Linked DNA regions of Homo sapiens: region 2 is linked to region 1. Evidence: fine-mapped expression QTL. A gene starts in region 1. The other region holds a variant in brackets. All regions are shown on one strand. Distances are between the middles of the regions. Region 1 holds the start of ZNF592 (zinc finger protein 592). Region 2 overlaps SEC11A (SEC11 homolog A, signal peptidase complex subunit).

Evidence for each region. PIP is the estimated chance that this variant, and not a neighbour inherited with it, causes the effect.
Region 2: its variant is the best candidate, but not a certain one, in a credible set for the expression of ZNF592 in stomach (GTEx, PIP 0.66).

Annotation. Positions count from the first base shown.
Region 1 is chr15:84,746,286-84,751,661 of GRCh38, reverse strand. It overlaps ZNF592 (zinc finger protein 592), which reads right to left and starts at 3,070. Exons shown (of 11, transcript NM_014630.3): 1 at 2,998-3,070. RefSeq lists enhancers at 2,099-2,178, 2,707-3,546, 3,619-3,918 and silencers at 2,579-3,068, 3,129-3,548.
Region 2 is chr15:84,665,714-84,671,031 of GRCh38, reverse strand. SEC11A (SEC11 homolog A, signal peptidase complex subunit) reads left to right here. Exons shown (of 6, transcript NM_014300.4): 5 at 250-307; 6 at 963-1,488. The coding sequence ends at 1,013. Among named protein-coding and RNA genes, the nearest start is that of NMB, 10 kb to the right of the region's middle. The variant T/C (reference allele first, on the strand shown) is at 3,010.

The sequences.
Region 1 (5,376 bases):
CAGTGCTGGGATTACAGACATGAGCCACCGCATCCAGCTTGTCTCCAGTTTAAAAAAAAAAAAAAAGTAATAAAAATTTTTAAAATAATAAAAGCAACTAATATTTGAACCCAGTGCTCAACTGTTTACATGACTTAATCTGTACAACAACTGTATGAGGGAGTTTTATCTGCACTTAAAATGTGAGCAAACTGAGGCACAAGAGAGGCTAAATAACTCAAGATCATTGGTTAGCAAGTGACAGGAGCAAAATGCAAACTTCAGTGGTCTGGCTCCAGAGCCAGTGGGCTCTGAATTCAGGCAGACGTGCTTTGAATCCAGGCTATGTTACAAATGTGGCTTTGAATAAGTCATCTATCCCCTCTGCATTTATTTCTTTGTAAAATGGGTATGATAACCTCTTTTTCTTAGGGTGTAGAGAGGACTAAGTTAAATACAATAATGTATGCAGAAGTCTTTAAAATTGGTTCTCCCACCTGGCAGGTACTCCATAAATGTTAATTCATTTTTGCCTTCCCTTCCTAAAAGCTGGATGAAGCAGACTCACAGAGGCAAAGGATCTCCCCCAGACTGCTTGAGGCTTTTCCAAACAGATCAGGTAGTTAAGCCACTCAACCCAGAAAGCCTTGCCTTACCTGCTTATCTCAAAAGTCCATTCCCTGCACAGGGGCTAGACACCTTTTAAAATGTAAATATCATGTCATTCCCTTAAACCCTTCAAAGGTTCCTAATTACACTGGAGATACAAACCAAACTAAGGAGGGAGGCATTCTGCCCCCAAGGCCCCATTGCTCTAATTTGGCCCTAGTCTCCAGACTAATCTCCCCTCTCCCTTTCCCCCTCCAGCCCCACAGGCCTCTTTCACTTCCTCCTTGCTACAGTCAGCTCCACACATGGTTAACTCTTAACCCTCCTTCAGATCTTGGCCTAAACATCACTTCCCCAGGGAAGGCTTCCCTGAGCCCCCAACTCAAATCGGTCTCTTACCCCTCTCTTCAGCTTTCTCTTCTTATATTCACTATAGTTTGAATTATTAGTTTACCACTTCCAAGTTTTACTCGAAAGACACCTTCTTAGGAAGCCTTCCCAGGCCACCGTATAATATAAATTCAACTACCACCCCTGATACCTCAGATTCTCCTTCCCTGCTTCCTTCTTCTCCTTAGCATTTCACACTTTTTAACAGACTATATTTTTGTTATATATTTTATTTATTGTCTTCTCCCCCACTCCCAGGAAAGCACCACAAGGGCAATCATTTTTGCTTTCTTTGTTCACTGCATCTAGAACAATGCCTAACACGTATTTGTTGACAAATATTTGTTGTTGAATAAATTTCCACGACTATTTATTTATTTTGAGATGGAGTCTCACTCTGTAGCCCAAGCTAGAGTGCAACGGCACGATCTCAGGTCACTGCAACCTCCGCCTCCCGGGTTCAAGCAATTATCGTGCCTCAGCCTCCCAAGTAGCTGGGATTACAGGCATGCACCACCACACCCGGCTAATTTTGTATTTTTTTAGTGGAGACGGGGTTTCACCATGTTGGTCAGGCTGGTCTCGAACTCCTGATCTCAGGCGATCCACCCGCCTCGGCCTCCCAAAGTGCTGGGATTACAGGCGCGAGCCACCGCGCCCGGCCACGACTATTAATTATTAGACTTTCCCAATGGCTAAGAACTAAAACATGGTATCTTTCTGGCTTACCAATGTACTCCCAACACCTAGCTCAGTGCCTGGCACAGAGTAAGTGCTCAGTAAAAATTTATTTAATGAATCAAAGCCACAACTAGTTGAAAAATTGGAAAATGATCAAAATGGACGCACTAGCACCACACTTCTGCCCCTTTCACTGTGTAACGTAACAGTGAGGTTGAGGAAACAGACTACTAAAATACCACCAAGCATCCACCAGGCCAGGAATCTGTCTGTCCACATCCTCCGCACTCTGCCACACTGTGCACCACACTGCACCCGCGACAGAAGCACCCTACAGGCCCTCCATGAGCACAGGCCTGAACTCAAGTGGGCAAACCATAAGCCAAATACCGTCTTACTCCCCAAGTCCCATTCTTCTACTGCCAGTCCTATTCTAGACTAGTCCTGGATGCCAAACATGCTTCCCTGGGTGGGCCTGTGGACTTATTCCAATCCAGGACCTTTAATGCCACCTTTGGCCTACTCAAAAAATGGTTTAAAATCCCTAAACAGCTTCAATAATCCTGCAGTACTCAGGAGCAGGCATACCTAAGGTCATACGGACCCCTCCCCCTCACAAACGCTGATCCAAGGCCAGGAGGCCATCTGTCCAGCAGACGCTCTCCTGTCCTCCCTCAGGTCACACTGAGCCTCCCGCCAACCCCCTCGTTGGCAGGAAGAGCCCTTGCAGAGAGACAATTTTCACCCTGATCAACAGGCCTGGTCACCCCTGAGGACCCCAACTCTGGAGCTCTAGGAATACCTGTCTGCTCCGGGAGAAACCTTCCTCAGGGTCAGAACTTGGGCTCAGGGGAGGGGAGTACTGAGGAGCGCCAAAGAGGGTCGTTCCCCGAAGTGTCTGCCCTGTGACGGCGACAGCTCTTCGGGCGGCGGGGACGGTCGGGCTGACAGGCCGTCCCAGAGGGAGAAAGTGGCACCGTTATCCGTGCCCGGGCTGGGGGCCGCCGGCTATCGCCGAGGGCGGCCGCACGTCCCGCCCAGCGCGGAGGACAGCAGCGTGCCCGGCCTGCCAAGGAGCGGCGGTCGCAGCGGCGGTCGCAGCGGCGGAAGGGGCCGGCGCCCGACGGCCGGGGGCGGGGTGGGGTGGCGGCCCGGGCCCGCCAGGCGGCGGTCGGGGGAAGTGGCTGCCGCCTCTGGCGGCGGCCAGGGTCCGCCAGGCTGCAGGGCCGGGCCCCGGCTCGGGCTCGGACTCGGTCCCGGCTGCGATCCTCCCGGGCCCAGGCTGGGGCTGCCCCGGCCCGCAGGCCCCGCTCGGCCCGGCCCGCGGGGGGCGCTTACCTGGCGGCGGCGGCGGCGACTGCAGGCCAGAGTCTCGGCCGCGCGCGTCCCCAGCGCCGGCTGCGGGAGCCACAACATGGCGACGGCGATGGCGGGCGGGGCTGCGGCTCCGGGGGCGGAGCGGGGGCGGGAGCCGGCCTGGCGGCGGGACCTGGCTGGGGCTGCCGCGGCGGGGGATTGGGGGGGGGGGGGGGCAGGCGGAAGGCGACTCGGACCTGGGCACCGGCCCAGGACGGTGCGGTGGAGGGGCTGCCCCGGCCTGGGCCCGGCCTCCCGCCTCCCGCCTCCCGCCCGAGGCGGGCTGCGCGGCGCAGGCCCGGCGACGGCGACGACGGCGGCGGCGGGTAGGGCGGGGCGGGACGCGACGGGACGGGGCGGGGCGGGGACGGCGCCGCTCAGGGCTGGACCCCCGACCCCGGCCGGCCCCCGCCCGGCTCCAGTCCCCGCCACCCGTGCTAGGCACCCTGTGCGGTCGGGCAGGCAGCCGCTGCCAGCGACCTGGGCCTCTTGTCCTCTGACGCGCCTCGGGGCAGGGGCAGGGGCCGAGGCCGCCCACTAGAGGAACAGGATCTGCCTACGCAGCTGTCTCGCCCGGCAAAGAGCGCCCAGGACCCGGGACTGCGTCCTCTTCACTGAGACCTGGCGCATAGGGGGCCTAGTCGAGGCTGTTAAGTGAAAGCAAGCAGGGGTGGCGTGGGCCTGGCGCTCAGGTGCGCCCTAAATGTTTGGTCATAGCTGGCTACAAGGACATTCGCGCAGGCTTGGAGGTGCGGGGCAGCCTGACGTGTTGCCTCTGGGGTAACCGAGGGACGCGCGGCAAACAGAGATGGAGGACTGGCAACGGGTGCCTCGAAGAGGTAGACTGGGAGATCTCTCAGGGTTACTGGGGAAACGATGACTGTGCAGGGTGAGAACTCAGTGAGTCTGGCAGAAGGCTGGGAGGGTGACCGGCAGGACCTTCCAAGAACCCGGCGTACCTGGAAACTGGGTCCGCAGCATTAGGGCGGCAGCAAGGTCAGGGTGTGGGAACACGGAGATGAGGCCCTGGTGACTAGGAGTGAGCACACACTGCTAACCATGGAGAAATTCCTTCTCCAGGAAGGAGATGCAAATGTGCAAGATGGCTGGAACTAACATGCAGCCGGAGCCTGCTGTGCACCAGGCACAGAACTGAGTTGAAGAGCTTGTCTAAAGAGTATGTTAGCCAATGAAGCAATGGAGTTAATAAAGGGTGATGATTTCAAATGTTTGGCAGTGAGAGAGAGAAAAGTAGGCCTGGAGCTCAAGAAGTACCAAGAGTAAAGGAGAAAGTTGGGTCCTACTGTGGAAGCTGAGGCAAAAGCATCCCTTAAGCCGAGAAGTTTGAGTTCAGCCTGGGCAACATAGCGAGACCCTCCCTCTCTGCAAAAGAGTAAAGGGAAAAGTTGATTGTTTTTTGTTTTTTTTTTTTGTCTTTGGAGACGGAGTTTCGGTCTCGCAGCCCAGGCTGTAGTGCAATTGCGTGGTCTCGGCTCACTGCAACCTCTACCTCCAGAGTTCCAGTGATAATCCAGCCTCAGCCTTCAAAGTAGCTGGAATTACAGGCGCACGCCACCATGCCTGGCTTTTTTTTTTTTTTTTTTTTTTTTTTTTTTTGAGAGAGAGTTTCGCTCTTGTTGCCCAGGCTGCAGTGCAATGGCACAATCTCGGCTCACTGCAACCTCTGCCTCCTGGGTTCAACCGATTCTCCTGCCTCAGCCTCCCGAGTAGCTGGGATTACAGGCATGCGCCACCATGCCTGACTAATTTTGTATTTTTAGTGGAAATGGGGTTTCAACATGTTGGTCAGGCTGGTCTCAAACTCCTGAACTCAGGTCATCCACCCGCCTCGGCCTCCGAAAGTGCTGGGATTACATGCATGAGCCACCGCACCCGGCCCTAATTTTTGTATTTTTAGTAGAGATGGGGGTTCGCCATGTTGGCCAGGCTGGTCTCGAACTCCTGACCTAAGGTGATCCACCTGCCTTAGCCTCCCAAAGTGTTGGAATTACAGGCATGAGCCACCATGCCTGGCCGGTGATTTTTTTTTTTTTTTTCCTAACTTGAGTGGGGAGACCTTAACTAAAGGAGCTGAGAGGGGAGAATGGCAGATAGATGTAGGATAATTGATGGTGCAAGAAACCAGAAAAGGAAAAGTAGATGGGAAGGGGGAAAGGGGTGAGCAAAAAGTCAGAGAAGTCCGCCTCTTCCTACAAGATTTAAAGAGTGCATAAAGATTGAAATATTTTGAGGTAGGGAGGCATGCATGCTTCCATGGATCAGCTGCCTGGATTACCCTCTACAATCATCCTTAGGGCAGCTGGGGTCACTGTCCTTTAAAATTTAAGTACAATTGACTCC
Region 2 (5,318 bases), 81 kb after region 1:
GTGCTGGTTCTGCCACACAGAAACCATGTACCTTGGGCATGATCATCTGTTTCCTCATCTCTAAAATGGTGATATTCCTAACTTTCCTATCACTTGGGCTTTTGCAAGGATCAAATAGGGCAGTATATAGAAATGGACTTTGTGAATTGAAAATTAGTATTCTATAGAAGATATTGATAATATTCAGTGAGTGACAACAGCTGCTTTACATCGGAAATTCTGTGATAATCAGTTTTTTGTTTGTTTTAGATTTGTTCCTTATATTGGAATTGTGACGATCCTCATGAATGACTATCCTAAATTTAAGGTAAGAGTCTGTATTATTTGTTTTATTAAAAAATGTAATCTTTTGGGCCAGGCACAGTGGCTCAAGCCTGTAATCCCAGCACTCTGGGAGGCCGAGGTGAGTGGATCGCTTGAGCCCAGGAGTTCAAGACCAGCCTGGGCAACATAGCGAAACCCCGTCTCTATTAAAAAAAAAAAAAAATTATTAGCCTGGGCGCAGTGGCTCACGCCTGTAATCCCAGCACTTTGGGAGGCTGAGGCAGGCAGATCACCTGAGGTCAGGAGTTCGAGAACAGCCTGGTCAATATGACAAAACCCTGTCTTTACTAAAAATACAAAAAAATTAGCCAGGAATGGTGGTACACACCTGTAATCCCAGCTACTGGGGAGGCTGAGGCACGAGAATTGCTTGAATATGATAGGTGGAGGTTGCTGCTGCACTCCAGCCTGGGTGACAAAGTGAGACTGTCTCAAAAAAAAAAAAAAAAGAAAATTATTTAAAGAAATGTGATATTTTGCTTAGTATTGGAAACTTTTAAATGGATTATAGTTAAAAGATGAAAGAATAATTGGGTAGTTTAGCGATATATTCACAAAGACCAATTTGTTAATTAACTCTTAGAACCTCTGAACTTTTCAACGCTTCTCTGACTTGTGGTTCTGTGTTTATTTTCTAGTATGCAGTTCTCTTTTTGCTGGGTTTATTCGTGCTGGTTCATCGTGAGTAAGAAGCCTGCCTTGCTGTTCCTGGGAAGATGCCATAGTTTTCGTTACTGGATGTTTGGAGTAGATACTGGTCTGTGATTGGTGGAATGGAGAACACACGTGTTGGTGCTTCTGGGTAGCACTGGTTTGCATTAGTTTATGTTTCCATGCCAGAGTTTGTGTGGGCGGGCGCATGTGCACCACAGAGTGCACTCGAGGGGACTTTCAGTCACAGGATTTCATAATTGTCATTGTCACACTTTCAAATTTTTGTACATCAGTGAATTTTTTTATATTAAAAGGTTGAGCCAAAGCCCCCAGTGTTTGTATTTTGAAGCCAAGCTTCACTTCTAAAGTGCCTACAGAGACTTGTAAATGAAAATGCAGCTCTGCACGAGTTTGAAACCGTCATACCTCCTTCTATTAGGAATGGCATATACTGAGGTGGTCGTAAGTCTTAACTTCTAAAATTTTAAATAAAAGACTTTGCACATTGAACCCCTTATCCCTGAATTGTGTTTGTCGGGAAAGCTTCTGAAATTTGCCTTCCTTGGCTGGTTCTTAGTACCCCTGGGGGATATAAAGGCTTGGTGTGAACAGTCCTTCAGCTAAGAAGGTTGCTCTGATACTAACAACTAGTTTTTTTGTTTGTCTGTTTTGCGTGTGTGTGTGTGTGTGTGTGTGTGTGTGTGTGTGTGAAGCAAAAGTAGCCACTGACAGTCATAGGAAATCTCTTAGTCATAAAATTGATTCTTCCCATGACTCAGATGTGTATAAAACCCAGCTAGTGTTGCTGAGAGGTTCAGAAAATCTCACTTGGTTATAAAAAGTCATAACCCTTTCTACACTTGAGACATTTCAGTCCTTTCTACACCAAGGCAGTGTGCATTAGCATCTAGAGGCAGAGGAAAGGGCTGGAGGACAAGCATTCTGCTTGGCGTCTTTAAAGTCTCATTTGTCTGAACCTGTTCTCTCAAGTGCCTGACTTTGCATTTCTCTAATGCAGACTTAAAGCAAGCAGTTTAAAGTAGTGAGTGCACAACCCAATTGTATGTTTTCTTTTAATATCAAGGCAGTGAGGGAAATAGGGAGTATAGAGTAAACCAATATCTTTTGAGCACAAAATACACTTAATTCTATCTGTTCTCTTGTTGTATTAATGTGAAATCTTAAAGTGAGTTTTCTGTGTTAGGCTACTTGAACAGTTTCTATTATTTGTTCAACTGCAGTGGAAATCAGTCTATGCCGTAATGCTAATGGCATGAGAACAGGGACAATTACTCTTCTGAAGCCCTCCCCTGTGGAGAATAGTACCTTCCTAAACCCATTAACCAGGCTTTAGCCTTCCAACTTTGGATATGGGCTCTTAATATTCTCAACAGAGTATGAAACTTGGCAAATCACTGCTAACAAATGCTTTTTTGAACCTGTCTGTGAGGCGTATATAGTACTTATATTTTCTCATGAACCAGAAGCTGAACATTCCCTGTGTGGAATAGCAGGAAATTGCCATTTATTCCATTTTTTCCCCCCTCATCACCTGTGGAAGATGCAGTTCACTGCTCAGCCTAATCAGTACACTGGTTTTTGTACCAGCCTTTCTAGGACTACTCTAGGGGAGAAGCAGTGTGCTTTGCTGGCCAAGGTTGGGATCCTAGGGTTCTCTGTGATCCTAGCTTGCCTGAATGTAAACATCCTTGTACTTGTATCTTCATCTACTCCAGATTTCTCCTTATAAATGTATTGGGAAGAAAACATTAATACTTTTTTCCCTTGCATATATTCGCAACCAGTTTTATATAAGTATTATTTTTCCTCCTTTCCTGGATGCTGTAGTTGCAAGCAACAACTAAGTTTCTCTGAAAAGGTAATCAAATCATTTAATAATATTTGAATCACTCCATTAGCCAAAAATAAAAAGATTACTTGTGGGGAGGGGTATTATATTCCCAATTTTTATCTTGTCTAGTTTAGTGCTAAACATAAGACTTAAAATGGGAGATTTTATTAGCAAATATA[T/C]CCTAAAAGCTCTTTGCAAATGTAAGAAATGCCAGAGAGGTTTTATTTGCTAATTGAATGGCGTGATAAGCTCTTTGAGATTTGGCAGGGCAAGTGGAGAATTGGGAGGGCTCAACCATTGTGAGTGAAAGGAATTGAACAAGAGTATGAAAATTGATCAAACTTCAAATGAGAAATTGATAATGGGATTATCTCTTTGGCTGTTACTTGTCTGCTCTTATACCGCCTGCTAATCAATCTTTTTAAATTATTTCCAATGTCTGTCCTCAGTTCTAGTTCCATGTCTCCCTTTCCTCTGGACACTTCCACTTGATTGTCCCGTCTTTAAACTCAAGTTCCTGAAAACTTCCCCTCCATATTTCATGTTTTCTGTGAAGGAATATTCACCTAGATTTGTCATTTCCCTACCATATCTAGCCACGTACTAAGTCCTCCATTTACCCCATCATTCCATTCTCATTGCCATCACCTGAATCCAGAAATACTTATTCAGTGGCTCCCTGTTGCTTGTGTACTGGTCACCCTGCAGTGTGCCAGTCTGTGCCTGTTTTGGATAATTACCACCTGTTATTAATACTTAGTTTTAGCCTGCCTTTTACTTTCAGAAATGCTTCTTGTTTGGACCATAAATTTTGTGTTCATACTACCCTTTCCCTACATTGAATTCAAACTTTGAATTCCACCAACAGTAAGCATCCTTATGAGTGCAAACATCCTTGTACTTATGTCCTCATCTATCCAATCCCTCCTCCTTATACACTTATTGGGAGGAAGACATTAATACTTTACTCACTCGGGCTGGGCGTGGTGGGTCATGCCTGTAATCCCAGCGCTTTGGGAGGCCGAGGTGGGTGGATCACTTGATGTCAGGAGTTTGAGACCAGCCTGGCCAACATGGTGAAACCCTGTCTCTACTAAAAATACAAAAATTAGCTGGCCCTGATGGCATGTGCCTGTAATCCCAGCTACTTGGGAGGTGGAGGCAGGGGAATGGCTTGAACCTGGAAGGCAGAGGTTGCAGATTGTGCCACTGCATTCCACCCTGGGTGACAGAGACTCTATCTCAGAAAAAAAAAAAAAAAAAAATTTCATTCACAACCAGTTGTGTAAAAGTATTATTTTTCCTCCTTTGCTGAGTGTTTCCACTTGTATTATGTCATCTTATTTCTGTTTATCTGAGTCTTACCGTCTTCACAAGTTCTGCTGTCACTCAGCATTTGCACCCTCACACTGTTTGTTTAAATTTGTGGATATGGCCTCGAGGTCCTTGGCAGATTGTAAGCTCCTCCAGGACAGGAGCCCCATTTCATAGACACTGTTCTGTCTTTCCTCAGTAGCCTGAAACAGCATCTATTAAATGTTCAGTACGATCATGCATTGTAGTCAGAGGCAGTAGCTTCAGTTAGCATTGTTGTTGAGCTGTTATTTGGAGGCAGAGCATATGAATCATTAAAGTGATCTGTACTTTCCTGTTATTTAGTAAGTACATTTTCTTGGTCTTGCCAAATTTGAATCTGAAAACTTTCTCTCTCCATGGTTCCATTTAAACAGCATGTACCCTTCCCAGATTTTTAACTGTTAATCCTGCTTCCTTCTTTTTTGTGTGTGTCCTTAGGCTTAGGCTGTTGTGTCTTCTTTCTTGATGGGAGAAGTATTGGCATGTATCATTTTTCTTAAGGAATCACAGGCTTCCTTCTTAGAGACCCAGGGCTTGGAATAGAGAAATTCTCTGTTATCCTGAGTACATTTCTTAGTATTTGCATAAGCCTTTTACCAAGTCTAGCTAACCTCTCAGAACGTGGCATGGAGGCTGATTTCAGAATCTGAGGGCTGGGCCTCTTCTTATGACATTTTCCACTGTTAAACTTCAGAGATGACCCAGCTGGTTCTAGCTAGGTAAATGGATGTCTACCTTCATCAAGCAGCTCTTTCACTCAGGATGGCCTGTTCAGGTTGTTTTGTAGCCAGGTATATCTTCACCACTACTGTCTCTTGCTAGAACAGTAAGTAATACAAGGTAGGCTTTCAGAAGTAAAATAGCAAATATGACCCTTCACACACAACTATGGTGGGTGTGAAGCCACCATAGTTATTGCCATTCAATTAGCAAATAAAACCTCTCTGGATATAGAAAGAATGCTGTGTAACCAAAAAGCATTATCAAAACTAGAATGCGCAGGGCTTACCAAAAAATGGTGAAGATGTTGCCTTCCATGTGTCATTCTAGGTCCTAAGGATTTTTCCAGCTGCACTCTCACCAGACATCACATTCTTGCACCCTGGACGTTGGTCTTACGGTACAGACATTC